Linked DNA regions of Homo sapiens: region 2 is linked to region 1. A link means that fine-mapping ties the variant in region 1 to the expression of a gene that starts in the linked region. Tissue or cell type: whole blood. Region 1 holds a variant in brackets; the other region holds the start of a gene. All regions are shown on one strand. Distances are from middle to middle. Region 1 overlaps LHFPL2 (LHFPL tetraspan subfamily member 2). Region 2 holds the start of LHFPL2 (LHFPL tetraspan subfamily member 2).

Region 1 (2,901 bases):
AGTGTGTTTGCTTCATAGGTAAATAGGAAAGAATCACATGTAAAAGAATAAACAAAACATTGCTCCCATACCTATACTTTATCCATTTTTCACAGGGTGATTTTTAGACAAAATAATTTACACTAATTAAAACTCAGAGGGGAAAAAAAAAAAACCTTAAGAGTTCATGACTTACTTGGGGAAATTATTTTTAAAAGACATTAATGACCGTTAACTAAGCATCATTACAACTGAGTGGACTTGTTGACAACAGAACCTTGTCTATGAAGAATGCATCCCTTGAATTGTCCCAATTCATCCCATGTGCCTCTGCCTAAGCTTCGATTCACCCCAGGTCGGGAACTCAACATGCCCATTGTTTCTCATTTCACAGAGGCCTCATTCTGTCTCCACGGAGGAATGACTTCATTACCAGAAGACATTGCTCCAGTGGCTCAAGCCTTCTTCAGAGGAGTCTGGACCCTGAAATGGGGGCCAGCAGGGCTGGTTTGCAGCCCCATTTTCTGCCCCATTCCAAGGCCAGGAACAATCACATAGCTCACATCTGGGCACATGGCCCTGCTCTGAATGATTAGATCTCATTAACCGAGGTCAAATCAACTCCATGAGAACTGCAAAGAGCCCCCTGGCATGTTGGGAGTGGGGTGAGGCAGGGAGTTATCGAAGAGGAAGAGAAGCGGAGAAATAAGGAAGCCCAGTGTCAAAGCTTAAAATGCCCGTTTCTACACCCTGCACCAGCTGTCTGCCTGCTGGCTGACTTCCTAGTGAGCATGTGACTCTACCCATCCCTTGAAACATGATGTATTTTAAAATCCTCATATCATGGTAGTTGCTATACAAGATGCTATTTTGGGGACACAGCTAGTGCACTACTAGGAACATATGCACTTAATTGTCAGGGTGTGTGTGCGTGTGTCACAGCGCTGTGCCAAGCACTGGGTAAGGGAAGGGAGTCCATCAGGTATGGGTTCCAAAGCCAGCTCCAGCACTGACCATATGGATGCCTAACTTCTCAGAGCTCCCTCGTCTGAGCCGGTAAGGGTAGCCTACCTCACCAGATTGTTGCAAGGAATGAACAAGAACCTACTGAAGCACCCAGCACAGTGCCTGGCAGAGTAAGTGCTCAACAAATATCAACTCCCTGCCCTCCGAAGCTTTTCCTGTAACATAGATGACACCGTTCAGACAACTATTGATCCAACTGAGGTGCCCAGCAGATTACAGAAACCTGGCCACTGCACACAGAAAACATTAAGCACAGGCTACTTAGAGATGGACGAAGTCATTCATGTCTAAACTTACCTTGCAGCCTTCAAGGGCAGAGTCCTGGTCTTCCTGTTTCCCCACTACCTAACTCAGCTGGTGTTTTTATATTGGATATACCTTCTGGCTGAATGCTAATTTATCTCCAC[A/C]AGCTGGATAATTTATATCCAACTGGTGGAGATAAATTAGCATTCAGCCAGAAGGTATATCCTACTCCGACTCACTCATTCTCAGCTCCCTCCTCCAGATAGTACCAAACAGAAAGCCTTTTGAGAAAAAAGTTACTAAGGGCTTTAGAGGAGATTGTTTGTAATGAAAATGATCATTCTAAAAGAGAACAAGAAAATGAGCCACAAGGACTCCCAGGAGGCCCTGAGAGCCTGCACGTACCCATCAGGCTCACAAATACTTTGGGCCCACAGGTGGCAAGCCCAGCCTGTTGAGAGCTATAAAGCCTTCCCATTTGATTAGAAAACCATTTTACTGTTATGCACAATCTCTTTCCCATCCCTTTTCTCTGTTAAATGTAATTTTTCTTTTCTTTTTTTTTTTTTTTTAGATGGGGTCTCACTGTGTCACCCAGGCTGGAGTGCAGTGGCATGATCTCGGCTCACTGCAACCTCTCTGCCTCCCCTCTCCTGCCTCAGCATCCAGAGCAGCTGGGATTACAAGCACACACGACCATGCCTGGCTAAATTTTTGTATTTTTAGTAGAGATGGGGTTTCAGCATGTTGGCCAGGCTGGTCTCAAACTCATGACCTCAGGTGATCACCCACCTTGGCCTCCCAAAGTGCTAGGATTATAGGCGTGTGCAACCACCCCTGCCTGAATGTAATTTTTCAATGAGAACATTCATATTTGTCCTCTTGCAGAACTGCAGGGCTCCTACAACCTCTCGGGTGACTTGTATCTTAATGACTACTCGAGTGTCCACTGCCCTGGCCAGCAAGCTCTACTCAGAGTAAGGAATGCAATTAGTTTGCAGCTTCTGAAGAAAAAGGCTGTAAAAGTTCAGGACAGGAGAAGATGGGACATCTGGGCTTAGCAAAATGCCTGAGAACAATTTGAAGGCAGGATTACTTAAGGACCCACATGCTTAAGTAAAAATAATATAGTTCCCTCTCCTTTATGCTAAAACATTTCCTCATTCACTGCACCAAATTCTCACACCCATACAAGATTGGCTGGGATAAGGGCTTCATTCTTCTGTTTTCAATAGGGGGATAAGATGCTCTGTTCTCCCTAGTAAGTTTGCTAACTGCTACTATCAGAGGAACAGTGGTGATACGCAAGGCTGACTAAAATCGAGGCTTCCTGGGGGTGGTGATATGGTTTAGCTGTGTCCGCACCCAAATCTCATCTTGAATTGTAGCTCCCATAATTCTCACGTGTTATGGGAAGGGCCCGGTGGAAGATAATTGAATCATGGGGGCGGATCCCCCATACTGTTCTCATGGTAGTGAATAAGTCTCACAAGATCTGGTGGTTTTATAAGGGGAACCTCTTTCACTTAGTTCTCATTCTCTCTTGTCTGCCACCATGTAAGACATGCCTTTCACCTTCAGCCATGTTTGTGAGGCCTCCCCAGTCATGCAGAACTGTGAGTTCATTAAACCTCTTTTTCTTTATAAATTACC
Region 2 (2,901 bases), 140 kb after region 1:
TCTTAAACCTAGCAGGAGTGGAGCTCTCTGGCCAAGGGGTAAGGCAAAAGCAATGTGCAGGTTATAAATGTCCCTTCAAGCTCAGTTACTCCGGTTTACCTCTCTGGGGTGAGCCTCTAACAGCTCTGGCTCGCCGGAATCTTTCCTCCCTCGGCTCCAGCACACACTTTCCATAGCGGCCGCGTTGCAATTTCAAAGAGTTCTCCTTTCCACGTAGGTCACCCACCGATGGTAACCTACATGCACAAACACACTCGCACAATCACAACAGAGAAAATGGGACATACAGGAAATGGCCCGGGTGGAGGCGAGGACGGGGGTGGGGATAGGACTTTGTCTTTACTCTGGTGTTGCTCCCATTGAAACAAGCACATGGACTTTCATGGAACTCATGACCATCCTGAAATAACAGAAAAGTCGAACGGGATTGAAGAAAATCCTTTGCTTTTCTAAGTTCGAAGAACACTGGGCCGCTGAATGGAAGGGAAAAGAAAAAAAAAAACTGTGTGCCTAAAAACATCCAGAAACACACGCAGAGTCTCCCCAGTCCTTTGCCCAGCCCGTGGGCTCAAGCCGCCCATCCCAGATGCGGTCTTCCCCACTCCACGCCCACCTCTTCCAGCCCGCACCCCAAATCACTGAGCTGCCCACAAAAATGCAGTCCAGATTTGAGAAGCAGCTGACGTCTGTGGCCAGAGTGACCCACACGCCACGGACCAGGGACAGCAGGGGCGACCACGGGGCGGCCCCCAGGGAGCGGTGCCAGGCGCGCTGGAACCCGGCGCCCAGCTGCGCCTGGGACCCACGCGCCGCCGTCCGAAGCCCGCCAGCGACGCCCAGAGAGCAGGGCTCGCGCCGGCTTCCCGAGGAGACGCTGTTCCCGGCACAACTTTTTTCCACTTCTGCGGCCGCCGGCGGCGCTGAGAAGCAGCTGTTCCCTTCCCATTCCCAGCACCCAACGCCCATCCCGCAGCACCTCCGACCGCTCGGCGCGGTCTCCCAGGGCGCCGAAGCGAAGTTCCCGCGCCAGCCGCGGCTCAAGCAGCCAGGGCTCGGCCGGCCGCAACGGCTCCCCATGCGCCCGCGCGGGGCGCCCACCTGGCCGGGCCCACCGGCTCTCCCCTCCCGCAGCGCGCGCGGGCCCGACGCCTGCCACTCACCCGGCCCCAGCTCGGCGTCTCCGGCTCCGAGCCCGCAGCCTTCCCCAAGTCAGGGCTTTCAGTGACGCCTCCTCGCAGCCACCTCGCTCTTGCCCCCGCTGGCCGCGCCTGGAAGAAGGAGGCGGGAGGAGAGCGAGAGGAGAGCGGGAGGAGGCGGCGGGAGAGGGGGGCAACGCAAGGGAGGGGAGAGGGTCCGCGGCGCGGGGGAGGAGGCAGCGAGGCGAGAGAGCGCCAAGCTCGGCGGCCGCCCGGGCTAGCACTCGGGGAGAGGGAGGAGGAGGAGGGGCGGGGGCAGCGAGAGAAAGAGGCGGCCGAGCCGCCCTGCCCAGGCCCCGGCCCCGCGCCGCTGCCCAGTCACCATCGCCGCCTCCGTCCCGCGAGCGGGCCGGGCGTCCGGGGGAGGGGTCGGGCTCGGGGCTCCCGGCGCGGCGCGCGGGGCGGGACGGGGGCGGCGGGCGGGCGGACCAGGCCCGGCCTCCGGAGGGGAGTGTCCTGCGGGTCCGGGAGGGAGTCGGCGACAGGGGATCCCCGAGAGGGGGTGTGGGGGCCTGGGAACCGGTCCCTGAGCCCGCCGGGCAGCGGCGGCGGCGTCTCCCGGGGTCCTGCGAGGTTCCTCCGGGCCGCACCGGGGAAGCTCCCGGAGCAGCTTCGAGCAGCCCTGCCGGGAGGGCCGGAGGCGGAGAGCGGCGCTGACGGAGCCGGGGGAGAGAGGCCAGGCTGCTCCGGCGGAGAGCGGGCCCCGGGGCGCTAGGAGCAGTTCCCCCAGACCCGGGCCCAAGCGGAAAGAACGGCCGTCTGGTGACCCCGGAGAGTCCGAAACGGGAAAGGGGCCAAGGGGCGCCTGGACCCCCATCCTCGCCGCCCTCTTCCGGAGAGGAGGCTCCGGACATAAGTTCCCGTGCCCTCTGAATATCTAGGTGTGGAAACTCAATTCCAACAGTCACAAAGATTATTCCTAAATAGAATGCTTGGTGTCCTCAGCTTCCCTGCCCTCAAAATTACGGTTTCAGGATGATTTTCGGAGGCGCTTTAGGAACAGCCTGAAAAGGCATTCTTGTCCAGAGAGGGGATGCTTTAACTCCCCAGCTCCGCCCCCAGGGCTGGGAGCAAAGAACAGAGTTAAATGGCCATGAATTCAGGTGCCAGTATTGTTTGTGATTGAACTGTTAGGACGTGGCACCTCTCTAGGCAAACCCATCTTGTATTCCACCCCTCGCCACCCCCCCGCCCCCCGCCCAGTCAAATGCTCCCATTCCCAGTTTCTCAGCCCCTTGTCTGGGACACCTCTATCCACCAGTCGCCCAGATTCAGATTAGCAGTCAATTTTGGGCCTCGCTCCTCCACTCCCGGTAGCCAGTCCCATTAGTTCTTCATTTTTAATGCCTTTCCAGGTGCCATGTCCTTTCAAGCCCACTGCCGCCTTTCTGGTTCTCGCTATCTGGCACTGGATGGCGTGAGCGGCCTCCTACCGGTTCTCTGCTGGGGTCCTCTCTACACTTGCATCCATATGCGCAGGCCTACAGGTGAATGGCTCTAGAATACCCCTCAGGCAGGCCACTTCCTGTTCTAGAAGCTTTCTGAGGCACTTTGCCAGAGAACATTCTGAATTCCTTAAAAATCATCAGTTCAAAACCATACAACAACTGCACCTCCATACGCACTTCTCAGAGCCTGGGACTCTCTTTAGATGGGGATCCTCCCCTCCCCCCGAGAAAGATCCATGCCTGTATCTACACGAGAG

The links.
Region 2: it holds the start of LHFPL2, and the variant in region 1 is fine-mapped to the expression of LHFPL2 in whole blood (INTERVAL, PIP 0.92).

The regions. Positions count from the first base shown.
Region 1 is chr5:78,510,964-78,513,864 of GRCh38, forward strand. All of the region lies in intron 3 of LHFPL2 (LHFPL tetraspan subfamily member 2), which reads right to left. Among named protein-coding and RNA genes, the nearest start is that of LHFPL2, 140 kb to the right of the region's middle. The variant A/C (reference allele first, on the strand shown) is at 1,413.
Region 2 is chr5:78,647,339-78,650,239 of GRCh38, forward strand. It overlaps LHFPL2 (LHFPL tetraspan subfamily member 2), which reads right to left and starts at 1,434. Exons shown (of 5, transcript NM_005779.3): 1 at 1,161-1,434. RefSeq lists silencers at 683-742, 1,033-1,972.